Regions from separate parts of the Homo sapiens genome. Here regions 2, 3 and 4 are each linked to region 1. The links come from fine-mapping of genetic effects on gene expression. A gene starts in region 1. Each other region holds a variant in brackets. All regions are shown on one strand. Distances are between the middles of the regions. Region 1 holds the start of FIG4 (FIG4 phosphoinositide 5-phosphatase). Region 2 overlaps FIG4 (FIG4 phosphoinositide 5-phosphatase). Region 3 overlaps FIG4 (FIG4 phosphoinositide 5-phosphatase). Region 4 has its middle 43 kb from the start of CD164.

The links.
Region 2: its variant is fine-mapped to the expression of FIG4 in prefrontal cortex (BrainSeq, PIP 0.95).
Region 3: its variant is fine-mapped to the expression of FIG4 in whole blood (INTERVAL, PIP above 0.99).
Region 4: its variant is fine-mapped to the expression of FIG4 in whole blood (INTERVAL, PIP 0.96).

What each region holds. Positions count from the first base shown.
Region 1 is chr6:109,685,488-109,693,873 of GRCh38, reverse strand. FIG4 (FIG4 phosphoinositide 5-phosphatase) reads right to left here and starts at 2,578. Exons shown (of 23, transcript NM_014845.6): 1 at 2,373-2,578. The coding sequence starts at 2,438. AK9 (adenylate kinase 9) reads left to right here and starts at 2,672. Exons shown (of 41, transcript NM_001145128.3): 1 at 2,672-2,727. RefSeq lists an enhancer at 2,625-3,094 and a silencer at 6,661-6,861.
Region 2 is chr6:109,783,243-109,788,242 of GRCh38, reverse strand. FIG4 (FIG4 phosphoinositide 5-phosphatase) reads right to left here. Exons shown (of 23, transcript NM_014845.6): 17 at 3,215-3,273; 18 at 1,794-1,941. Among named protein-coding and RNA genes, the nearest start is that of FIG4, 94 kb to the right of the region's middle. The variant C/T (reference allele first, on the strand shown) is at 2,844.
Region 3 is chr6:109,726,983-109,731,982 of GRCh38, reverse strand. FIG4 (FIG4 phosphoinositide 5-phosphatase) reads right to left here. Exons shown (of 23, transcript NM_014845.6): 4 at 4,718-4,874. Among named protein-coding and RNA genes, the nearest start is that of FIG4, 38 kb to the right of the region's middle. The variant A/C (reference allele first, on the strand shown) is at 2,045.
Region 4 is chr6:109,334,934-109,343,319 of GRCh38, reverse strand. It overlaps the pseudogene CCDC162P. Among named protein-coding and RNA genes, the nearest start is that of CD164, 43 kb to the left of the region's middle. The variant A/TGTGTGTGA (reference allele first, on the strand shown) is at 4,934.

The sequences.
Region 1 (8,386 bases):
AAAAAAAAATTATTTAACAAAACCGAGACTCAGTGATTCAATGCAGCAGACATTTTCAAGGGTGGTTGCCCAGCCCCAACCATTTGCTGAAACAAAGAGGATCCTGATTCCACAGCTAAATCATTCCTGCCAGACCCCCCCTGGCCATGAATGATTTGTCCACTCAGGGGATGATAACCAATCATAGTTGAGTCGATCAGATTTTTTCTCCCAGCACCTACACTGTTTTTGGCAGTACTCTGAGAGGGTTCTCAAACCTGTTATCTCTTTCCTGCTTTTCCAGAAGCTGGATACCATGCAATGGCTCCCCTAGCATCCCTCTGATAAATTTACCTTTTGTCTCTAAGCTGGCCAGAGTTAGTTTCCATTACTTAGGCAGTTGAGAGGGGTCACAGCTGAGTTCTGGAACACACCTCTATCTCTTTGTGTTAGAGCTCCTTAATCCACATCTATTGAGAGACTACTGTTTGCAAGGCATGACCAGATATGTGCTGTGAGGATCAGCAAGGTTTTGACAGGAAAAGAGGGGGTGTGGCATTAAGAGAATAGAGAACAGCAGAAAAACACAGGGCAGATATAGGGAACTGAAAGCAATACAGTTTTACTGCAGAATAAGGCATATGAAGGCACATGGTTGATCCTCAATAAATGTTTCATTAATTGATATTAAATTAGATGTAAAACTAGATAGACAAGTTGAGGACAAATAATACATGGCTTTGAATGCCAACTAAGGGATTCAGAGTTTACTTGCTTCAGAATTGGGACCACTGAAGATTTCTGAGCAGAAGAGCCCTATAATATGAATTGTGCTTTCTGAACACTAATATCTCACGCAGTCCTCATGAGTGATCAGCTTTTTAATGGGCTGAAATTTGTGTTTTATTTACGGCCAGATGCGGTGGCTCATGCCTGTAATCCCAACACTTTGGGAGGCTGAAGCCAGGAGTTTTAGACCAGCCTGGCCAACATGGAGAATCCCTGTCTTTTATTAAAAACACAAGAATTAGCCGGTCATGGTGTCACATTCCTGTAATCCTAGCTACTTGGGAGGCTGGGGTGCGAGAACTTCTTGAACCTGGGAAGCAGAGGTTGCAGTGAGTGAGCCGAGATAGCACCACTGCACTCCGGCCTGGGTGACAGAGCAAGACTCTGTCTCAAAGGGAAAAAAAAAAAAGTTATTTATGTTTCTAATGAGGGAAATTTAGCAGCATATTTTACAGAAAATAGGTTTCATTTCAATGACAAATGATACTTCTTTATGGGTCTCATTAGAGAACTGAAAATACTTGCAAATACAGTATATTTGATAATGTCATTTTCTGCTCTAGATCTAATCAAAGTTGTCAGCAAAATTAATTTAAGGTCCACAATTCTCTACTCATGTTAACCTGAGGGAGAGGTTATTGTGCTATTAGGACTACGTTATAACTGAGAAACTGTTAAATGCCTTCTCATACTCCTCTAATGGAGACAACCCAAGTTTCAGAGAAACAGTTTATAAAGCACTCTATAACATAGTGAAGAGCATTATGAAAATATCTGGCATATGCAATCTTGTTAGCATGAAATGGGTAATATTAAACACAGTCCCTAATATCACTGTGGCACCCCAATTTAGAAGAGCTATACTGTACCAACTTTGCTTTCCACCCACAGAAAGGACCAAGTATGAAGTTATATAAACACCATTCTCCCTTAATTGAGGAACTGGTAATCGAAATACAAACTGATCTGCTTATTCACTATTTACATGGCCATTCAAAGTAATAAAATTTTAAAAGTAAATGTTATGTTGAAAAAAGTCAAGTGAAAAGCAAGATGTTATCCAAACAAATTATCTGTCTTTAAACAAAGTAAGTTTTCCTTTCCTTTCAAATAAGAAAAAAAGAGAACCAAAAAGTTCACCAATAGAAGTGTAATTCACATGAATCGCAGTGATGGTATACCATGGAATAGGAAAAAATAAGTTACAAGTCATAGTTCAAATTTTTTTCATACCCCTGCCTGTACTGTAACTTGTGAACTCTAGAACTTTAACAGACTTTCTGAAAGCTGAAAAGAATCCAGTAACTCGTACAGAGAACCTCATGAACAGTTCCTGAGGTACCACAAGCACCTGTTTCCAGCGTGTTCCAGCCATGGCTTGTAAGTGGACCTGCAAATGCTGCAATGTCCAGGGTACCAAAATAGGGGAAAGGCGCCCAGGCACAGCTCAAGGGAGCTAGCTTACCCCAAGGCTGTGTTTGACAGGGATTTGGGAACTGGAGAGGAAGGAGGAGGAGGCAGAGTACAGCCTCTGTCCTACGGCCCCACACCCACCGGCAGACATCCATCCTCCCGCCTGCGCCCCGCCGCGAGGGGGTACTCACAGCTCTAGTCTCATACAGAACCAGCTTCTGGACCGAGCTGATGATGGGGGCGGCGGCCGTGGGCATGGCGGCGGCAAATGGGGGCCCCACAACAGGGCACGAGCCTCCGGACCGCCCCAGGAGACTCGGCGAGAAAACCCCTCAGGCCCTGGACATCAAGTCCAGCCAGGAACAACACCCATTAGGCACTAAACCTATAGATGATCAGGTGTTTCCGGATCCCTGCGCCCCGCCTCCAGGCAAGCCCCGCCCCTCACGTCGGGAGCGGGGCTGGAGGACGTATCATAGAGAGGTCGGGTAGAGGCTCCCGGGACCTGCGTGCTGCCGAGAGAGGAAGCGAAGGGCACCATCTTTGGTAAGGATTGGAGGAAAACATGGGCGGAGAAAAAGTCGACGGATTAATTGAGTCTATTTATCTCCTCCCTCTCTTTGGAAAAAAGCGGAAGGTTTGGGATTGGGTAGCTTCTTTTGAAAAGGGTTCTCCGAGTTGCAGGATAGATCCTTGTGTTTTCCCTGCCTGCTGCGGCCCATTTTCCTGGAAGCCGGCCCTCTGACGGTCCTTCACTGAGTGTCAGTTTTCCCCTCACCTCTAATCCATGTTGTACCTACGCTGTGTGGCCCAAGAAATTGTTTTAAAATCACCTAAAGCTGGAAAGTGTGGCTTTGCCACACGTTTGTGCGTGAGGCTAGCCACTTGAAGTTGTCGACAGAGACTAGCGCAGTGTGGCGGAGCCGCGCTTGAAATGAGGTTTCTTCATTTCATGTGTGCGACATAAATGGGCATGCGCGTACCCTCTCTTCCATAGTTGTGAAAATGAGTGTATTATAATTATAAATGCCAAATTAGGTACAAAAGTGACTATTTCGAATTGGAAAAGAAATGACAAAGAACTACAGCCCCGCCTCTCGAGGCCCCGCCCCACCAAGCAGCAGGTGCGTGGCGGCCAGAGGTCTCCCCGGCAACCGCCCGACAGCCCCGCGGAGTCCCTGGAGGCAGTTGCTTCCCTGAGGAGGGTCCGGCTGCGGCCAGGTAAGGAGCCTTCCGGCGGCCCGCTGGGTCGTGGTCCGCCCTGGAGGCATCTTGGTATCTGTTGCACGGAACCCCGCCTCCTGCGGGGACCCCCAGACCAGCTTCTTTTCTTGCAAAACGGTCTCTTTGTAAATCCACTTTTTAAAACCACGTCTCCTTTCAACGACTGAAGTATTTATTCCACAAATATTTACTGAACACCTACTGCAAGAGTATAAGATGTAGGGGAGAGGCAGCTATCCTATCTTAGGCGGCAATTCTAGGTTTCCCAGGAAACCTCTAAACCTCAGAAACCTCTGCTAGAGGGCTTCTCAACTGCTAAGTGTAAGGAAACTTTAAAAAAAAATTATAGAATTATAGCATACCCAGATAACATTCATGTAATACCAAAGATCATATTGTAAATTAAAATTTGAGAAATTACAAAAATTGTAAAGAAATACTTAAGTCTATGTTATTTTGCGCTTCTTTCCCCCTGTAGTTTGGTACTCCTTTTATTAAGAACTAGAAGGATGGCCGTGTCCGTTCTGGCATTTTGGACTTGGATCTTTTAACTGGGAAAAATAGTTAGCTGTGTTCTGTTTCATAATGAAACCAACTCTTCTGAATATTAGTTAAATGTTTGCACAGTGTTTTTATCTAGGATAGCAACTCTTAAAATACCTGAAGGATTCTAGTTTTCAATTATTATAGTTTAGCACTTCCATTTTAACTTTATCTTAGTTTATTTCACCCGGAATCAGATCCTAAGACAAAACTTTGAAGGCAGGTTGTTTATATGAGACGTAATCCCAGGAAACAGCAGCAGGGAGGGGAAGAAAACTAATAAAGGAAATATTACCAGAGAAATTTCTCTGTGGGCTGAATTCACTAGGGAATACTGGGAGGCATGTCTCAGTTATCCCCTCTTGAGGGGCAAGGAAGCTGGAGTATTTATTCGCCAACTTCCATCAGTTATTGGATGAAGCCTGATAGGGCAGAACATTGATGCCCTAGAACTTCCAGTCTACCCTGTGTTCAGGGAGAGTAGGTTCTGGCAGCCAGAGAAAGCCCTTAGGCAAAAAGTCGCACATGCTAACATTTTGGAAGTTGGGCTGGTCGTGCATAGAAAAGGTGTATGTCAAGTGGATATGGGGGAGGCACTAATAGCAGCTGCTACATTCCACCCTTTGCAGCACTCGTATCCATTCTTCCTCCACATCAAGTTCACACCATGCCACCCTAATTCTTTAAGGTAGTGGCTAGTCTCAATTTTTAAAAGAAAAGGACTTACAAAAAAAAAGATTAATGGGACAAGCTGCAGAATCCACTACTGCAATTAATCTGAGGTCTCTAATTGATCATCTCCTTCCTCTAACATCATTCTAGATTTTCCTTACTCTTGGCCAACACTTCTGCTGGTCTGTGTTTGCCCAGTAGGATAACAAGCTTTCATCCCTGAGGAGCATAAGCCCTTGGTTACTGTGTCATTGTAAGGTTTTGGTTGCTGCAATTACCCATTCACTGGACATGAAAGCATCAAGAGCTGTCTCAGAGAATCCCCTGAGTTCAAGAAATGCATCCCCTATCCCACTTATCTAGCAGTTTATGGCCATACCACCCTGAGCACCCCCAATCTCATCCAATCACATAGCAGCAACCCTATCTCCATCTGCCAGTGCAATAACTCCTTATGAGCTTTTGGAGTCAAAAATGACCAGGTGGCAGCAGTAGTTTTAAGATTTAATGAAACCTTTACTGGGTCCCCTGATAGAACCATCTCTCCCCTCCACCAGACCCAGGACCTCTTGTCCAGAAGTGAGGTGCAAATTTCCCAAGTCAATCACTGAGAGTATTAGTGAGAGGGGTCACTCCTACTTCCAGCCCTTGATTCAAAGCATGTTCCTCATCTTGAAGTACATTGTCTCAATCCCACACAATCCCAAGCTAGCGCCTTAGCTGTGCCTTTAAGAGACCATTCCAACATTCTGTCAAACCAGTAGCTTCTAGGTAAAGTGGTATTGTAAAAAGGGTCCTCTGATCCAAGGCAATGGTATATGAGATCTCATGAAGATAAATGAGACATACTCTAAACCTTTAGGTAGTGGTGCTGGCCAAGGCACTGCAGGTAGGAAAAACAAGCCCATATTAGGAGCATTTGTCACTTGCCCCTTTAAAGGTGAAGGGGTCCTGTGTAATCAATTTGTCACTGAATGAATGTTTTGTCTCCTAAAGGGGTTGTACCATATTGAGGGCTCAATATGAACAGGTCTCAATTTGTAATCAATTTGTCACTGAATGAATGTTTTGTCTCCTAAAGGGGTTGTACCGTATTGAGGGCTTAATATGAACAGGTCTCTGCCATGAACAGGTAGAACATTCAGCAGCAGTAGTGTAGCTAAACCAGCCTGGTGAAAGGAGGCCTTGATATGAGCCCATGCCTATCCTTCATCACCTTCATCCCTGCCACCATGCCTACTTCATTTACAAACCCATTATGCAAGCATTGAGGTGACCAGAAGCAAAGATTGGCTCATGTCTACTGGATAAATTATCCTGTCCACCTGGTTTTTTCAGTGCCTCTTCTGAGGTGGATGCTTTCTGAGATACAAATATCTATGTATTTTACATCCACTTACATTAGTTTTCTATGCTGCATAGCAAATTACTGCAAATTTAGCAGCTTAAAACAACACACATTTGTGATCGCACGGTTTCCATGGCCAGGAGCCCTGGCATCACTCACCTGGGTCCTCTGCTCAGGGTTTTACAAGGCTGCAATCTGGTGTTGGCTGAGATGTGCTTCCATCTGGAGACTTGACTAGGGAAGAATCCACTCCCAAGCTGATTCACATTGTTGGCAAGCATCATCGTTTTGTGGTTGTAGGACTGAGGTCACTGTTTTCTTACCAGCTGTTGGCAGGGGCTGCACTCACATGCCACCCACTCTTCCTCATCACGTGGTCCTCTCACAACATGGCAGCTTACTTCTTCCAAGCCAACAGAAAGTCTCCCTCCAGTCCCCTAAAATGGAGTCTTATACCATGTAGCATATTCATGAGACAGACATTCTGTCACCTTTGCTCTATTTAGAAGCAAGTTACAGACCCCACTCCCACTCAAAGGAAGAGGATTATGCAAGGGTGTGACTCACTGGAGGTCAGATTAGGGTGTGTTTGCTACACCACCCTCATAGGCCCAATCACATGCTTCTTCCCCAGAACTCTTTTTCTCTTACCTTCTGATCTTGTACCTTCTAGGCCCTTGATGAAACCAATCCGCATTGTCCTCCAAATTGAGGGCCTAGGAATACTGCTTAAAGCTCTGCCTGCCAGGAAGATTTCCCCTAATCACCATTTTTCAGGGCCACTTGTGAGAGGAACTCATGTCTGGAAGCATTACATTTACAGCTTTTACCAGTATATTGTGATTCATCCATGAATTTTGTTTTCATTTTCTGTCAGCTCTTCTTAGGGAATTCCACATGAGGTGTGAGCTGAAAGAGACATTGGTGCATGAGACAGGTGACATGGGCATCTGGGCTGCTTATTTTTGAAATTTATTTGTGCCCTGAAGACCTGTTTGAGCCTGATCCCATTGTTCCATTTTTATCATTTAATGGGTTGCTGCAGTGCCTGCCTGACTTTAGGACTTGACTTGTCTGACATAACCAGCTCATAGTGGATACTTCCAGTTGCATAGTCACTTGATATCCCATGACCAGGCATTCATTCTCTACCAGAGCCCAAGAGCATGCCAAGAGCTGTTTTTTGAATGGGGAATTATTCTCTGCTGCAGACAGCAAGGATCTACAGAGAGAGGCTCCTGTTGTGGCTTTCCTAAGACTCCAGAAGGTATCCTTACATACCACAGCATTGTGGGACCTTTAGTATTGTGGGATCTAGCCAGATGTATGGCCCAGGAAGCAAAGCCTCTGGTACTACAACCTAAAACTACAGAGCTCTTTCTTGCTGTGTGCCCCACTCAAAAATGACAGCTTTCCATGTCACCCACTAAATGGGTCAAAACAGTATTCTTTAGTGCGCTTTATGCTCTCTTTGAAAACTAAAGAGGCCTGCAAAATACTGTGCCTCTTTTTTAGAGGTTGAAGGTACAAGGTACAGTAACTCATCCTTTACCTTGGACAGAATGTCCCAGACCACTGGCCTTTTAAAACTTTACCAAAGTAATAAGACCTTCAAACTTTGTAGGTTTATCTCTCACTTTATACTTACTGCTCATGTGTCTTTATAAGGGGATCCGGGACACTTGCAACTTCCTGCTCACTAGGTCTGATATTGTCAATATTGTGGATCAAGACCCCTTTATACTATATTGTCTCAAACAGCAGGAGAGTCCTTGGGTAAGACTGGATGTTCACTGTCACTGCTCTAAGTGAATACAAATTGCTTCCGATCCTCTTTCTTGATAGGGATTGAAAAGGATGCACACATTGCCAGATCATCAGCTGCGTAAAAAATACAAGAGACTGTGTCTATCTAGTAAAGATCCCATCTGCACAGCAGTTGCAACTGGGACTACCAGCTTGTTAAATTTGCAGAAGTCTACCCTCATCTGTTGTGCTCTGTCTAGCTTCTACAAAAGCAAGACTGGAGAAATAAGCAGGATTGTACATCTTTTAAATTGTGGTTGGTATCACTCTTCATTCAGAATGATTTACTCTTGGTTATCTTGCCCAGGGGTGGAGGACCCAGTATGCAATGTCATGAGCTTCCACTTGGCCTTTTCTTTTTCTTTTTTTATTATTATATTTTAAGTTCTGGGGTACATGTGCAGAACGTGCAGTTTTGTTACATAGGTATACATATGCCATGGTGGTTTGCTGCACCCATCAACCCATCACCTACGTTAGGTATTTCTCCTAGTGTTATCCCTCCCATAGCCCCCCACCCCCGAAAGGCCCCAGTGTGTGATGTTCCCCTCCCTACGTCCATGTGTTCTCATTTTTCAACTCCCACTTATGAGTGAGAACATGCAGTGTTTG
Region 2 (5,000 bases), 96 kb before region 1:
TTATGTTAATAAATCAACAATATACAGATGCTCCTCAACTTAGAATGGGGGTTACATCCTGACAAACCCATAGTAACTTGAATATGTATTTAGTACACCTAACCTACTGTACATCATAGCTTTGTGTAGCCTACCTTAAAAGTGCTCAGAACATTTACATTAGCTTATGGTTGTGCAAAGTCATCTAACACAAAGCCTGTTTTATAGTAAAGTTATTATAAAGAATTTTGAATCAAAATTCAAAATTCGAAGAACAGTTTCTAGCTAATGCATGTAACTTTTGCACCATTGTAAAGCTGAAAAATCGTAAGTTGAATCATTATAAGGCAGGGACTGATTGTATATTAACTACGTTTCTGTCTTTAAACAAAAACATACACAAAACTAGGTTATGTATTGATTGGTTGACAAATATGATGTGACCAGAGGCTCTCAGGAACCTAACCCTGTATTTCCCTTAGAAGCAATGGTCCAGTATTTACTAATTCAGTGTTTGCAATGACTTTATAGAACACAGCTACCACAAACACAATTAACTACAGTAAGTCCTCACTTAATGTCATTGATAGGTTCTTGGAAACTATGACTTCCAGTGAAACAATGTACAGCAGGTCCTTAAATAATGTTGTTTTTTCCGACATCATTTCATTTAAAGTCAGTTTCCAAGAAGCTGTCAAAGATGTGAAGTGAGGGTTTATATGTATATGAACACATATACCTAATGTCATTTATCTTTTGCTGAGTTAACAACTTCTAGAAATGACAAAGGTCTCATAGTTAAAACTGCTAAACCTTAACAAGTTTACTTGAAAAATCAAGCAAGTAAGAATTTCGAACTGTTCCTAACTATCTGAAACTGAAGCAAAATGTAGAGTGATTTCTAGGAAACAAAACCACAGAATATGTTTCTATGTACCACACAAAGTATAAGCATATAAATACCACATCTGAAGAAAATGTGAAATATAAAAAATTAAATTTTAGTATAAAATATAACAAGTAATTTTCTTTGCTCGATTTTCTTATTCTGGTCCCAGCGTTTTTCCTAAAGGGTCCCATCAAATTCTAAAAGAGATACAGAGAATGAAATGTGTCTGAAGGTGAGAGACTAGGATGGAGAGAGAATGGAAACCATGCCACATAAGTTATGGAAGAACAAATGAAGGATATTTACCCTGAAAAAATGAATACTGCTTCCTCAAATATCTTGAGGCAAAAGAGAAACTAGATTTGTCCTATGACTAATAATAATAGTAATAATAATAGCTACCATTTATCAATCACCTGCCTGTACCAGGCACTACAAAGGCACTTGCGGGGCGTGTGTGTGTGGGGGAGAGAGAAAGAAGAGAGACAGAGAAAGACAGATTAAGAAAATAATGCTCAGGTAAGTTGGATAATTTTCCCAAGGTCACACAGGAAGTGGCTGAACTAAGATTCACATCCTAGCCTTTCTAGTACCAAAGATGATGCTTTTCCCACTAATTTATGTCAACTCTCAATTTCTATGTTCAGTGAAAAAACTGAGTTTATTCCAAATGGCAAACTAGGACTAATAGGAGGCAGATTTCAACCTATCAAAGGGGAGAAATCAACTCCAACTGTCAATAGAACAATAGAAGGGGCTGCCTCTTGAAGTAGTGGGCTCCCCATCACAGGAGGTATTCAAAGGTGGACTACCCACCTGACAGAAGGCCTACAGAATGGATTTCTGGTAAAGACAGACATATATATACAAACTAGGAAAACTACAGTTCTCAAATACTTATGGTATCAGAATACACACAACATACCGTGCTGAGCTTGTCATAGCCAAGCAAAAGGTATCATCAAAGCTGCTCAACTCATATGGCCGAAAGAACTCATTGTGGATATCAATCTCTTCTTCATATTTGTGGAATTTCTTCACTATCAACTTCTTTAAGTTCACAGCACAGATAACTAAGAGAGATACTGCATGTTACTCTAAAAGTCTGAGATTATAGCAAGCAAACATTTCCATAATATTAACTGTGTTCACAGACAGCACTGTGATAAGCTCTGTGGGGGATACAGCCCTGACCGAGGGTAAGCTCCTGCCTCCAACACTTACACAGTTAGAAAGGAGATGAGATAGATGCATAGAAAATACAATGCAAAGCTGAGTTCAACAAGCTCTAAGGAGCCAGGAGGGCCTCAGGAAGTCCAATGGGAGCAGGCAGTTATTTAGAGGAGGTTCTTTAAATTCCTTTTTGCTCTTAAATAAATGCCCTTTGTGTTTTAGCTAAAAATTGTACAGCTTTTTCCCTAAGTTTCCCTTTATATTTCAAATTCTGTTAATAGCCACTGTTAGTTAAAACCCTTTCCTTTCTCCCAGAACAACTAAACCTTTTCAGCAATATGAGTAATGATTTTGCCCAGAATTTCAAGTTACAAATACCTTCCAAAATGAATTTATAACTTAATAAGAACCAAAAATACTTTGTAATCTTACTTTATGGCCTTCCCCACCCAAAGTTGGGATGCTGAAGCATGACTAGATGGAGTCCTCAATTGGAGCATTCCAGATTCGCAGGAGATCTTGCTAGGAACCCTTTACCAAATGGAAAATGAGCTTGCTCAAGGTCAGGGGAGTTAGTAACAAAGCCAGAACTAAGCTTTATTTAAAATTTGGCAATTATTTAAATTTGGAAACATCATTCTAATGTATTATACACTTGAAGGTTTTCCTTTAATATAGAATGTTTCCTGCCCCTCTGACAAATTAATGAAATTTAATTTAAATGTGACTAAAATGTACTTTTATACATGCATCTGTACCTTTTTTCACTGCTTATTAGCACAGGAAAAAAGTTTTAAGTTCT[C/T]CTTGTGAATAGGTCCTTACTTCCTCCGCATTCTCCCAAAATATGTAGAAATATAAACTGTATTAGTTTAAAGTGATGAGCCGATATATCATATTTTACTGACTAAATATTTGACAGACACATAATAATTGTAAGACACAATACAAGGTATTGGCCTACATAGATAAAAAGAAGTATAATATAATTCCTGCCCTTTAAAAAGCTAAGAGATGTTATAATATCCTATCTATTAAAGCAGCAACATAATACTGAACAGCCATTCATTTGTTTCTAATAAAATACTATGTGCAAAGGATTTAATGCTTCAAGTTCATTAAGGTATAATGCCAAAATATGTTAGTGTAAAAACTAAAACACAAACAGTTACCTACCTTCATCATAGGGCAATGGTAAATGCTTTATCACCTCTGGTGTCCACCAGTAAGTATAACTATAAAATAAAAATTAAAAAAAAAGATGAACCAAATGTAAATGTTGGTTTTCTAAAATTTACTGGATAAAATAATTTATATGGTCTATAGTAACATGTTCCTACTTCAAAGTTAATATTTTTCTTTTTAAAACATGTTTGCAAAGCTTTTGACACAGTAGGTCTTCAACATGGTAATTCCCTTCCCAACTGCTTTCTTCCTTCAACTATGTTGCAGATCTACAAAAATGCCATGAATACACCTGAGAGTCAAGATGCTCTGATATTATTTACTTTTAGCTAAAAAGGATTAGAAGGTAATAAGCTGACTCTATGAACTGCTGTTAACTTCTCCCAGGGACTGTGCCTACAGTGACTTACTCTGCCACCAGGTGAGTAGTGGGACCTTGACCCAAGTCCTACAACCAGGATTCCCTTGCGTGTAGTTATCTGATAGTTAGAATCTACTCTGCTGTATAGTACACACCTGTGTGTATAGTTAAAACAGTTAAGCAAAATCATTAAGGAACGAATTAGACAGTCCTAACGAACAAGTTCCCTTAGAAAGCAGTATAGACCGTTATTCTTTAACTGTAAATATGTGCTACTTGATTACAGAAGCTAGTCAGAGTAAGAGTAAAGAATGTCACCTGTCTGGATTTCTGCTAGAAGGCTCGTCTGCTATAAGCAAAGAATCTGAAAGAATCCTAAGTGGCCTTCTCTCTGAACACCTAATTTAATTCTCAATCAAATTCTAATGAAATGAATATTTAGAGGAAAAGGATATATGTCAAAGTTCATGAGAGCTAGGAAGGAGAAGAATTTTTTAAAAATCAGATTTCTAAAGATTAAAAAAAGAGCCTATAGCCAAAAATTGCTAAAAAGAGATTTTAATATAAATGAAAGGCTTTCTAAAAATATAAAGCTGAAATTACAATCTTGAATAATCCTGATTATGAAGCAACAGGAAAGTATCCAAATGAAACTGGCAACACAGGGAACTCTCCTAGGGATGGCAAGCAGAATACACAACCACTAATGATGAAAAAAGGAATATGAAGCCTAATGAATTGTGTGGGGCAAATCACTGTTCTAACAGGAAAGGTTCCTAAAGTTTTGTTTTAGACTGAAGTTATGCTTTACAGCAGTGCTATTCAAAATTCAATGTGCATGTAAATCACTTTGGGATCTTGTTAAAAGGCAGATGATTCAGTAGGTGGGGCCTGAGATTCTGCCTCTATGACAAACTCCTGAGCAAAACCAAAGGGGCAGATCCTCCAACCCCTTTTCAATAACAAGGCTTTGAATATGAGAAGAACAGAGCAAGGATAAGGCTGCTGCTTGTGAAGAATTCATTCAGTTATTCCACATTTATTAAGCACCTGCTATGTGTCAGACACTGCTCTATGTGTTGAAAGTGCCAAGCTGAAAGCAATGACAGAGAAAGTAGAGCTACTTAATTCCAGTACTGTTTCTATCCTCCCTAGCCATAACAAGTTTCGCACCTGAAAGAAAAAACACAAGAGGGAACTGTGTACAACCCAGAAGACAGAAGGAGGCGCTAGAGCGTCTCTACAAGAGGCTAGTGTCCCGGTGTAGCTGAGATCTATAATCTTTAAGGAACAGTGAAACATGGAGCTGATACTGGAAATGGGCCAATGCAGTCTTTAATTTTTACATTTAGCAGAATTTATTTATTTATTTACTTTTTTCAACTTTCATTAAGTTCAGGGGTACATGTGCGGAAC
Region 3 (5,000 bases), 40 kb before region 1:
AATACATAGCATTATATTGTATATTTAAAATATGTATGCAAATCATTACAAACTTTGTATACTGTCCTACTTTTTTCACTCATTTTTTGAAACCTAGTTACGTTGAAAGTTATAGATTTAATTTGTTCACTTTGTAATCAATGTTTGGTCTTCACTATATACAGTCATCCCTCGGTATCTGTGGGGGATTGGTTTCAGGTCCTCCCTCAGATAACAAAATCTGCAGATGCTCAAGTTCCTGATATAAAATGGCATAGTATTTGCACATAATGCACAATACACATCTTCCTGTACACTCTCAATTACCTCCAGATTACTTATAATACCTAATACAATGTAAATGCTACGTAATTCTATAGTTGTTATACTCTATTCTTTAGGGAATAATGACAAGAAAAACATCTGTACATGTTCAGTACAGACACAGTTTTTTTCAAGTATTTTCAATCTGTGGTTGGTTGAATTCACAGAGGTGGAACCCATGGATAAGGAAAGCCAACTACACATGACACACTTTATTTATCCATTGTCTGCTGATAGACCATTAGGTTCTTCCTAGTTCTCCACTATAAGATACAATGCTGCCAAGAGCATCCCATGCATGTTTTCCCATACACATGTGCAAGAGTTTCTCTAGGGCAGATACACGGAAACAAGAACCACTGTGCACTATAGATAACGTGCATTTTCAATTATGCTGGAATTGCCAAAGTGTTCTTCTAAGTGGTTAAAATATCACTCCAACTCATAGTGTATAACTCATAGTATACAACTCATTTCCCACATCTCTGCTATAATTTGATGACAGCAGATATTCTGATTATTCCCAAACTGACTAATGAGAATAAAATGGTACCTTTTTAATTTGCATTTCCCAAATTACTAGGTAAGGTTCAGAATCTCTACTGTGAGCTGCCTGTTCCTTTTAATCATTTCTCAGTTATGTTGTATTTTTTTCTCACTGATTTGTAGAAATTCTTCCCACATTCTAAATAATAATCATTGTTATATGTTACAAATATCTACTTTCAGACTGCTGCTTGTTTCCTAAAATTTGTCTAGATTATAAATACATTTTGAATATTTACAGTATCAAATATAGCATTGTTTGCCTTATGGTTTATGCATTTTGTATTTTGTTTGTAAAATCCTTTTCCATACCAGGATTATAAAAATATTTACCTTTATTTTCTTAAAATTATCTTTGTACTTCTGGAATTGCTTCCTGAATATTATCAGAGAATGGAATCAAATTTCATTTTTGTCCAACTGGAAAACCAACACTATTTATCCCATCTTTTCCCCCAATGACTTGTAATGCTCACTCTATCATATTCCAGTTTGCCACATAAAATGGATCTTTTTCTAGGCTTTCTCAACACTGTTCATTGACCCCCATCAATTCCTCCACCAATACTTAGCAGTCTTATTTACTATAGCTTACTACCTGATTATCTTAATTATTATAGGTCTTACCATCTTGTTGACTTTATCCCTTCTTGTTTTTCTTGTTTCAATTGTCTGGACCATGCTTAGACATTTGCTTTTCCATATGACTTTTAAAATCATGTCAAGTTCCATTCTCAAAACATCCTCTTGGAATCTGGATCAATGTTACATTAAATTTATAAACTGGCCAGGCCCTGTGGCTCATGTCTGTAATCCCAGGACTTTGGGAGGCCGAGGTGGGAGAACTGTTTGAGCCCAGGAGTTCAAAACCTGCCTGGTCAACACAGAAAGACCCTATTTCTGCCGAAAATACAAAAATTAGTCAGGCGTGGTGGCATGTGTCTGTAGTCCCAGCTACTGGGGAGGCTGAGGTGGGAGGACCACTTGAGCCCAGGAGTTCAAAGCTGCAGTGAGCCAAGATTGCACCACTGCACTCCAGCCTGGGTAACAGAGTGAGACCTTGTCTCAAGAAAAAAAAAAATTATAAATTAATTTTGGAGAAAACTAACATCTTCAAGATATCAAGACTCATCCATGAAAAAGGGACATCTCTCCAATTATGTAGAGATTTAAAAAATCTTTTAATAATGTTTGA[A/C]GTTTTTTCCATAAGGTTTTGGATAGCTTTTGTTATATTTATTGGCAGGTACCTTATACATTTTCTAGTTCGTTACTGCTAGTGTGTGGAAATATTACTGGTTCCTGTATGTCTTACATGTTGATCTTTTCTTTTTTCTTCTTTTAATCTTTTTTTTTTTTTTTTGAGGCAGGGTCTCACTCTGTCACCTAGGCTGGAGTACAGTGGCACAAACATGGCTCATTGCAGCCTCAACCTCCTGGGCTCAATCCTCCCACCTCAGCCTCCCAAAATGCTGGGATTACAGGCATGAGCCACCATGCCCAGCCATCTTTTCTTAGTCACCTTACTGAACTCTTTCATCAGTTCCGAGAATTTGTAGATATTCTCAAATTTTCCAAGTAGGAAATGATGCTGTTTGCATAATGACAGTAATTTTTCTTTTCAAGCTTTATGCCTTATTTTTCTAGTCTTGTGGCACTGCCTAGGGACTTTCAGTATGAGGCTGAATGTTAGTAGTGACGGCAGATACCTCTGTATTGTTCCTTACCTTGATTAAAAGTAATGCTTTTAAAGTTTCACTTCTAAGAACAATTTTGGATATAGGTTTTTAATAGGTATCATTTATCAGATTAAGAAAGTCTGCTTATATTCCTAGTTTGCTAAAACCTTTTATCACAAATGGGTATTGAATTTTGTCAAATATGTTTTCTGCAAACATTAAGAAGATAATTTTTCCAGCAATATTTTAATGTGGTGAACTGTTCTAGTAAATTTTCTAACATTGGTAACAATCATGCATTACAGAGATAAACATTATGTATGAAATGTTTAATAGTACTGTATTTTATTTCCAAATATTTTACCAAATAGTTTTGCTTAGATACACTATTGGATTATATAGTTTTATAAGTATTAAAAGTTTTTCCTAATTAGTAATATTACTTCAGTTTACCTATAAAAAACTATTAATATAATTGTATCTTATTCTGAATAAGTCCATTTACATGTTATTACTCATAATTTTATTCTTTAAAGATATCCAAATCACTGTACACAACAACATAATTTGTATTAGTATTCTTGGCTAAAGTATCATAAAGATGAGACTTATAAACAACATTAACTTCTTGAAATTTTCCTATCCCTGGATTCGCATGGTCTGGTCAATCTGATTCACTTTTAGTCAATACACTATATAGGCCTTCCTATCAGCTGTATCAGATATAACCTTTTTCAGTTAGTGCAAGACAAAGGTCTACTCTGATAAACTGTACTTATCCTCAAATGAAACAAATTATTTTCTAATAACCCCCTTCCAAATCATCATCAAAAGCAACATCACAAGGGCTCAGAAAACCACTGTCTAAGATGGTCTCAAGCAACAGGGCTGCATCACCTTTAAATTTTGGTTCATGTATTGGAACACTACAAAAGTACAGGATATAATTAAAATCTAAACTGTTACCTATCCTAAAAACTTATAAATATTTCTTTGTTCCATTTTAATCTTCATAATATTAAATCAATTCAACCTTTACAATTTTATCAATTTGTTAATAGCTTTTCCCACGTTTCCAAGGTTCCAATAATTCCTCCAAAACTTTTGAACATTTCAGATATACAGGAAAAATTGCAGGGAAAAAAAAGTACAATTAACACCACTATGCCCTTCTTCTGAATTCACTTTTAGCGCTCTCTCCTTAAACACATAAACAAATATTATCTCTCTTTAAATATACAAATACATTTTATTTTTCTAAACCACTTGACTGTAAGTAGCAGACATCATGACACTTCACTCCTAAGTATTTTAGCATGTATCTGTTATAAACAAGGACAATCTCCTCAGTGACCGCAAACCATTATTATACTCCAAATTTAAATACTGATTCAAGATCACTAGTATGTAGTCCACATACAAACTGTCCAAATAAAGCCCTTTAGATCTTTGTGTGAGGATGTGTGTACAAGTACATGCACTTTTAACCCAGAATCCGACCAAAATCTGCATTTAGTTGTCACGTCTGTTTAAAAATCTGGAACAGTCTTTTGTTTTTTGTCTTTGATGACTTTTACATTCTTTTAAGAATCTAGGCCAGTTATCTTGCAGGAAGTCCAGTGGTATGTATTTATCTGATTATTTCCCCATGCTTAGATTCAAGTTAAATATTTTTAGCAATATTTAACTACTAAGGTAAACTGTGTCCTTCCCACTGAGAGTCAAACAATGTCAGTTTCGTCTCATTATTGGTGATGTGAAGTTTGATTATTTGGATAAGAATGTCTGCTGTTTTTTTCATCATAAAAATACTTATTCCTCTGTAAATAACAAAGAGATCCATGGAGTTTAAAATGTTGGGACTATGTGATTATTCTATTCCTCAATAACAACCTCTCACCTAATAGTAGCCATTGTTGATTCTTGCCAATTGCTATAATGGAGTCTTTAACAGCTCTTAACAAAAATTCTAAAATTCTGAGCCAACATTTGATCTTTTTACATAACATTCATAATATCTAAACTGTATTTTATTTTCTACCTGATCTACGACATTAAAAAAAAGTACTTGAGCCTGGGAGGCCAAGGCTACAGCAAGCTATGACCATGCCATTATATTCCAGCCTTCCAGCCTGGGCAACAGGGCAAGACCTTGTCTCCAAAAAAAAAAAGGTAGTTACCACCATACATACCTAGCTTCATCAGGATGAGTAACCCGTACAGAATCATTGGGTATATAGATCATATTTGTATCTTCGACCTTATAGATTGCATGACCTCCAATATCCGCCATCTTCCTCCTTTTAGTTATTAACACAATATAATAGCCTTCTAAGAACCTGACAAAACCTATGCAACAAAAAATAAAGAGAAATATGCTTTATAAACTTAGTAATGGCTTTTAGATGCCTATTTAAAAGGCCAAAGACCTTTGATACATTTCTCACTTTATTATTTCTATGATTTATAGCCATA
Region 4 (8,386 bases), 350 kb after region 1:
GTTTATAATGTACTTTACATAGTTAACTCATCTGATGCAGAATCATGGAGGAATTAGGGTCCAAGATGAACAAATTAAATTTCATGCTTTAAATACGCCTAGCTTTCCCAGGCTGTTACTTTAACTCAGCTGTTCTCACTCTAAACCTAGAGTCCCCCTGCTTCATTCATGCCCAGAGGGTTGGCACAGTAAGGAAATGCTTAGGCTTAGAATGCCTTTATTTTGGTGCCGGCCCCTATCGCGCAGCAGTAACTTCTGAAAGTGAGACACAGTATGGATCACTGGGAAAGGATACAGTCTCGCATGGGGGATAATACTACAAGGCTGGACCACACTCTACTTGCCAAGGATTGTTGTCAACTGGAAGCGTGCTTGCCCCATGAAAGCCTGTGTTCAAGGCAGAGGCCTAGATCCCAGGATCCCAGGACAGCCTCTAGCAAAAAGATCCTCAGAGAAATGGACACACACACACACACACACACACACGTATGTGATAATGATCTTGCTTAGGAGTAATATTTTCTCAGCCACATGAGTAAGAACAATAGCCTTTTGGCCACCGCCCTTGGTTTCTGGGCTGGAGAGGAGGGAGGAGAAGGGAAGCCCAAGTCCAGGCTATCTTTTCCTGGCTGTGCCATCTGTGTGGCTTCAGGCTGTGGTGCTCTGGTGACTGCTCCTGACAGCCACAGCACCAAGTGTGGTGGCCACGTTCAGCTTTGCAGAGTTAACTGCAAAGGGAATGAGGAAGAGGCTCTGAGGTTCAGATACCTGGCTGTCCTGCTGCTTCCACATCCTCGCGCTGTCAGCCTGTGCCCTGGCCAGGGCCTGCCTGAGAGCCAGGACCTGCTGACGAAATAAACCCACTTCTCGCTCTGCCATCAGCTTGATGCGCAAATACTCTTTTTTACTTTGAATAGATTCCTGTAAATATCCCAAACACAGTAAGATAGGAAATAGGTTTCCTTTCCAGATGTTTAGTTTCAAAAGCAGTATCTAAACCACTTTCCCATCCATTCTTCTTTCAAACTTCCGGTAGAAGGGAGCTCCTGCTAGTCACTGCTTCCATGATTTTATTTTATTTTATTATTTATTTATTTAGAGATGGAGTCTTTCTCTGTCAACCCAGCCTGGAGTACAGTGGTACAATCTTGGCTCACTGCAACCTCTACCTCCCAGGTTCAAGCAATTCTCCTGCCTCAGCCTCCTGAGTAGCTGAGACTACAGGTGCCCACCACCACACCCGGCTAATTTTTTTGTATTTTTAGTAGAGATTGGGCTTCATCATGTTGGCCAGGCTGCTCTCAAACTCCTGACCTCAGGTGATCTGCCCACCTTGGTCTCTCAAAGTGCTGGGATTACAGGCATGAGCCACCATGTCCAGCCTGCTTCCATGATTTTAATTCAGAAGAGGGTAACATATGAGAGTAAATACTTTCAGAAACAGGATGTGAAAGTTTCCAAATAGCTATCAATATGAGCTTTGGACTCAATTTACCTTAAAGCAGATTTCTCACTTATTATTTTGTGACTTCATTTTCCTCAGATACTCATGTATGAAACCCAAAGATATGCGGTATTTTGACAAAGCAGCCTCAAGGCCTTGGTGAAGCCTTTCCTCCATCTTTTCACTTCCTTCCCTTATGCTGAATTCTCTGATCTGTTTTTTGTTGCCCCCTTTGCTTCTGCCCCCTTTCTGTTTCTCCTGAAGTTCTCACATGGCCTGTTCCCAGGAAAAATCGCCAACCGTCGGGTCCTTCAGGATGGTTGGCCCTACCACCTGACACCAGTGCCACTCACAGCTACAGTGACACCATGGCAGCTGCAGCCATGGAGGCTTGGGATCAGCCATCCTGGGGACTGTCTGGGTCTCCCCCACCAGAGCTCACCTTCTCTGTCCTGCTCAGCTGGGCCTGGAAGCACGCCTGCTGCACAGCCAGCCTCCAGCGGCCCAGGCTCCTCACTTTGCACACCAGGTTGGCCAGGCTGCAGTTGTCCTGCTCCAAGGCCCACAGCTGTTCCTGCTAAGAAGGCTCATTTTCAGGAAAGGCTGCCCCCAACATTTTCATAGGAAGGGCACAAACCCTAACATCAGAAACATGCCTTCCAGAAGATGACACAATTGTGCAGTGCGTCCCTGTGCCCCCTTTAAAATGCCTGATGCAATGCTTTCTCAGGGAAATCAGGCTGGAATGCTAACAGGGTGAATGGTAGAGTCAGATGCTAGGATGAAACGCTGATATCCCATTGCTAAATGAAATCACATACTTTGGCTGGGTTTTCTTTCATTCCTTCATCGGGGCTGGCAGAGCACCATTTTTTCTTTAGGTCCTTCATATTGTCAATCCCTTCTGTTCTCACTTCACCGATGAGCTCACACACTTTCTGGATCAAATTAAGCTGATTATCATCCAGCTTCTCCTGCAAATTGCAGAATCAAGTCAAGGAAGTAAAATGGATTTGGGTAGTGTGAAGGGTAGTTGAAGAAAAGCCATTTTGCCTTCTACAACTTAACTTTTGTAAGTAATTTCACATTAAGATATCACCTCCTCAGACAATTATTCTGACATGTACTATAAGGAAGTCACACTTAGCAGCCCCCTGAGTGCTGTCTTTTATTCACAGGGCTTCATCTTCTGGACACCAGCACATCTTAGATTGTGCCTTCCTTGTCAACACCAAGGCAAGCTGAGCCAGGAGGATAGTGGAAGGTCACACAGGTAGAAAACCTGCTGACCAAACTGCCCCTGGTAAGAGTTACTTGGGAAGCTGAACCAAAGATTTTTGCTGCTATGTTGACTCACAGTAGAATGTGAGCAGACAAGACACTGTAGATGAGCCACTCCTGAGGAGCTCTGTTAAATATAGATAAAGTGGAGGAGGGAGTCAGGCTGGCTGCCTTCCTATTTAGGATCTAGCAGAAACCCCATTAGGAAATATTCCGTTCTGAATGGCTTCTGGCTAAATGGCTTGTGAGGAAACAGCCTGATCAATGGTAAGTACGACTGAAGACCCAGTGCTATGGACTGAATTGTGTCTTCCTCAGATTCATATGTTGAAACCCTAACCAGCAATGTGACAGTATCTAGAGATAGGATCTTTAGGAGGTAATTAAGATTAAAATGAGGATATAAGGGTGAGGCTCTATTGCAATAGACTGTGGCCTTATAGGAAGAGGGAGAGAGAGAGACCTTTCTTTTTCTCCCTCTCTCCCATGTGAGGACAGTGAGAAGGCAGCCACCTGCAAGCCAGGAAGCATGCCCTCAGCCAGAAGCAGACCACACTGGCACCCTGATCTCAGACTTCTGGCTTCCAGAACTGTGAGAAATATACTTTCTGTTGTTTAAGCTGTGCAGCCTATCATATTTTGTTATGGCAGCCTGAGCAGACTAAGACACCCAGTGTCTCTGGGGTGAGAGGTAGGGTAGGGGTGTCCTCTCACTTCTAAACCACTTCCCTGGAGAGGAAGGCAGGAGGAGGGTGCCCAGCTGGGAGCCACGGAGGGAAGCCTGGCTCTGGCCACACAACACAAGCTTTAGCAACTTCGTGGGACCCTGGAATATAACAGGGATTCCCTACTGTAGGAGGCTTGGTGGAACTACTTCAGCCTGGGAAACAGAGAGAATCTACTTTTTAACTGGGAATCTGGCAGAAGCTAAAAGGAACTTAAGACATTTCTCAACAATCTCACACCTGAAAGATGGCTTAGCAAATTCCAGCTGTCACTGTCTGCCCATCCTTCTCCTGCAGCACCAGACCTAATACATTTTGGGTTCGATCCCTTAATATGTGTAAGCATTTACACTGCAAGTAAGAGGAAATTCTCGCTGGAATGACCAGGCCAAGGTGAGTACTGGTGGAAGCTCCTGTTAACCTAACAACCCTCAGGGCCATTCTGCAATCCCTGGGGAGAGACTCAAGGACCCAAACGGGGCTGGCTTTGGGGTGTATCCAATAGCAGGGAAGGGGACAGGGTTGGGGGAAGCTGTGGACTTGCAGGTGGTAGGTTGCACTGAAATTCACACTGGTGAGTCAGCTGGACCAGTCTCCCTGATGGCCCATTTTAGGCTTGGGGCATCTATCTTATGGCTGTGCAAACATCACATGAAAGCGATTGGCTTCCACAGTGCTGCGGGTGCATGCGTACCCCATCACTTCTGCAATGGGTCTTTGCTGACAGGTCAGCAGTTTGCTGACATTGAATGTGAGAGTGAGGCTGGCAGGCATTTTGAGGGTTGGAAAAAAATGTGGAAGCTGATTCAAATTCTGAATGTGTCCAGGGAGTTCTCCAGAGGCACCTGCTGCTACCTACGTAAGGTCCGGCCTGGCCCAGGCACTGTAGTCTGGAAAGTCACACTAACAGATAAAATGGTGATAGAAACTGGGGAGGTGAGGGACTGTGGGGAGCAGAACACTCTGTCCTCCCAACAGCAATCAGACAGTGACAATAGCAACTGTCAATAGAGGGTAAAAGATAGACTTCTATATTATCCCCAAATTCAGTGTCTATCGTGGTTAATGACAACCCATTGCTGACTCTCTTTCTGCAGTGAAAGCTTAGAGCTAGAAAATTCTTGGGCCTAACAATCTCTTGTTACTACAAAGCCCATTATTCTGTCATCGATCCCTGGGTGTGCAGCCACCATGGGAATCCGTTACACTCGGCTACCCAATGGGTGGCCCAGATGTTCAACACGGGACACTTACTTTTATGTGTAAACAGGTCTCAAACAAAGCTCGGACTAATGCTTCATATTCTTCTTGGACTTCTTTTCTAATCTGCTTCTTGAGATTCAGATTCACTTCTTCCAAGTCTGTGAGTTGGGCTCTCAGAGTGGTGATTTCCATGATCATATCATGACTGAGCTCTGCAATCTAGAAGCATGAGAAAATGTGTGTGTGTGTGTGTGTGTGTGTGTGTGTGTGTGTGTGTGTG[A/TGTGTGTGA]GAAAAACAATTTAGGAGTTTCAAACTGCTACTACAAAATAGTTTCTTATAGATCAGTATTGAATTTCACTTCTATTTTAAACCTAATGAAGAGAGTGAACATTCTGCTAAATAAATGTGGGCAGAAGAATTTAAGGACAATTCAAAGGTCCCAGAACAGTGCCAGACACTGACTGGTGAATAAGTGACCCCAGAAAAGCCACTACATAGGCCCTTTTCAGTTAGAGAAAAATACTTCAACTGTCTTGGCCTCCATTTCCAAACTGGCCTCCCCTTGACACCTCAGCCCAAACATCCCTTTTCTTTTTTGGAATGCATTTTATTTTATTTATTTATTTAGTCTGAGACAGAGTTTTGCCCTTGTTGCCCAGGCTGGAGCGATCTTGGCTCACCGCAACCTCCACCTCCCGGGTTCAGGCAATGCTCCTGCCTCAGCCTCCCGAGTACCTGGGATTACAGGCATGCTCCACCACACTTGGCTAATTTTGTATTTTTAGTAGAGACGGGGTTTCTCCATGTTGGTCAGGTTGGTCTGGAACTTCCGACCTCAGGTGATCCACCCACCTCAGCCTCCCAAAGTGCTGGGATTACAGGCGTGAGCCACCGCGTCTGGCCTGGAATGCACCTTAACTGGCATCAAAAGAAAACAAGAAACAACAACAAAACTCCCCAAAGTAACAACAAAAACAGAACAAAACAAAACCAGTACAAAATAACAAAAGCGACCAAAAAACTCAAGAAAAAAAAATGCACCCTAAGGAGGGTTGCTCACCAAAAGTGAAAGCACACTCCTTGGTGTTCCTGCAGTGGACCTTCACTGACGGGACTTCTACAGGTGACACAAGCAAATGACTCTAAGGCATCCCATAGCTGGCTAGCCCTGAGAGTGTGGATGTGAGAAATGGAGAAGAGAACCTTTTAATAGGAAATGACCTACCTGGCCAGCACTGTCTTCAGGTGGACCCTGGCCTCTTTGTGTAGCATCTAATTCCTGGGCAGGAGAAAGCAGTACACAACCAAACTCTAACATTTAGTCTTCCAACCATGGCTCAGGTCAGTACAACACATTCCAAACACCTCCTATTTGTGTTAATGGAGCCCCATTTTGAGAACCTTAGGCTGTGCCTGGAGCTGAGACTGTGTGAGTTGCCCCACTGGACTTCAGGATGCCTAACACAGCCTCAAAAGACAACATTGACTTCCAGGTACCCACACTGATGCCAAGAACTGAGTAATGGGGATAGCCCAAAATAGGGGTGGCTCCAAGGCTCGTTGTTCATCATTTCAATGCTTCATTTGGTGTTTTGGCTAGTGGTTTAGACTTTTGAACTTTTCTAAGGTATAAACTAAAATCACACTAAATCTCTGATGCAATCTACCTTCACAATAGTGGGCAGCCCAGGGCAGGAGGACTGACTCTTCCATCCCACCAGCAGGCTCATATTTTAAGGAAGTCTCCCAGTGAGACTGACCCATGACATGCATCCTGAAGAGAGAGTTTACTCAAGGATCCTGGCTTCTTTCCCAGACCAGGAACAGCGCACGGTGCCTTGTGTTTGCTGAGGGTGGAAAGGACAGCTATGTACCTTCCCCTGCAGGGCCAGCCCCTTTGTTGCTCACCTTTCGTATTCTCCACTGGACACTTCCCAAGCACATAACCTAGTGTGCAACTGAGAATACCAGAGCCCAGGAGAATGATTGAGCCAATGAGTAGAGAGATTTGAGGGTACCATTCACCCTCAGTTCTGGCATAAGAACCACTGTATGTATCCCAACCCCCTCAGTTTTACTTTTCTCTTCTGAGTGCCTCCTGAGCCTCCCTGCCCATGCCCATTCCCCACTGCAGTTCTTCTCTCTCTGGGAACCTACTTGCTCTTTCTGGCTGAGCCTCTGCCTAGCATGATGCAACACATGCTCATAGCACATGGAGTAGGTCTCAAAGTTGCTGCATTCTCTTGCCATCACATCACAACCCAGGGAAAGGAGGCAGGCCTCAAGGTGATCTTTCCTGAAAGTGATCTGAAAGGAAAGAGGCATTCATTATTCACAGCCACTCCAGCAGTGCAGCCTCATCATGCCAGGGCCCCAGGCACTCTTTGCCTTGGCTCACAGACCCACTTTTGTTTCTCCTCTATATCCAACCATGGGCTCTAGCCTTGCAAGCCTCTCTTTCAAGTCAGCTTTGAACATTTGTAAGGACACGAGGACAATGGAAGCCCACATAGCGCATGTCAAAACATTGAAAGGTTATAAATCAAACTAACAAAATATCAGAATGAAATGTTTAATTCTCCTACCTTGAAAAACAGACCTGAAAAATGACCTGGAAAGCCAGATTTGAATTTATTATTCCTGGACTACTCTGAGTTTTTTTGTTTTTTTTGGTTTTTTTAGACGGGGTCTCACTCTGTCGCCCAGGCTGGAGTGCAGTGGTGTGATCTCAGCTCACTGCAGCCTTCACCTCCCAAGTTCAAGCAATTCTTCCACCTCAGCCACCCAAATAGCTGGGATTACAAGGGTGCACCACCACACCCGGCTAATTTTTGTATTTTTAGTAGAGATGGGGTTTCACCATGTTGGCCGGGCTGGTCTCAAACTTCTGATCTCAGGTGATCCAGCTGCCTCGGCCTCCCAAAGTGCTGGGATTACAGGTGTGAGAGTCACCCGGCCGACTACTCTCAGTTCTATGCTGTAGTGTGGTGACCTGGGGAAGGCTGGTCCCCAACCTGTAGTTTACAGTGTGACCCCCTTCTCTTCCCAGCTCTGGCCTCATGTCATGCTGTGAGGTCTTCACATGCCTGTGAGTGGACATCCTAGCCTGCATGTCCAAACTCCATCCACACGCCCAGTCGCCTCTTGGCCACTTCCAGGCCAGGGGTGTGCACACTAGTGATGAGGTCCACTCTCACTCGGGGGAAGGTGATCCAGGGAGGAGGCCCATTCAGGCCAGGGACTCAGGGAATTCCAGGTCCCAGGTACTTGGAGCATGGTCTAAAATGAAGGCCAGGGCTCTGAGTGGATATGTCCCTGTGGCCCAGGGGATTTCTTACCTTGTGGGGAAGGTCATGGCTGGAGAAAGGCCAGAGAGGGGCCCTCTGGTATATGGGGTATCTGGCAGGGGCTTCTCTTGCTCTGGTCTAAGGGCCACACAGCTCATTCTCTAGGCAATTCCACTCATTCCCTTTCTCCAGGAGATTGAGCATACTTTTTGAATAGGTGGCAATTAAGGAACAGCCCAACCTTCCAAGGCAGGCTTAGATTTAGGTTCTGGAGAGAAATGGGAGCCAATATTTGGAAGGTAGGACAGACCTACCTAACTAGGACCTGCATATCTATGCGAGTGTGTTTGTCCCTCTGTGCATCAATGAGTGTGTGTGTGTGTGTGTGTGTGTGTGTATCTATCTGCAGGGATGGGGGGTGAGAAAGTTTATGGGGCCAAGTCTAAGACCCAGC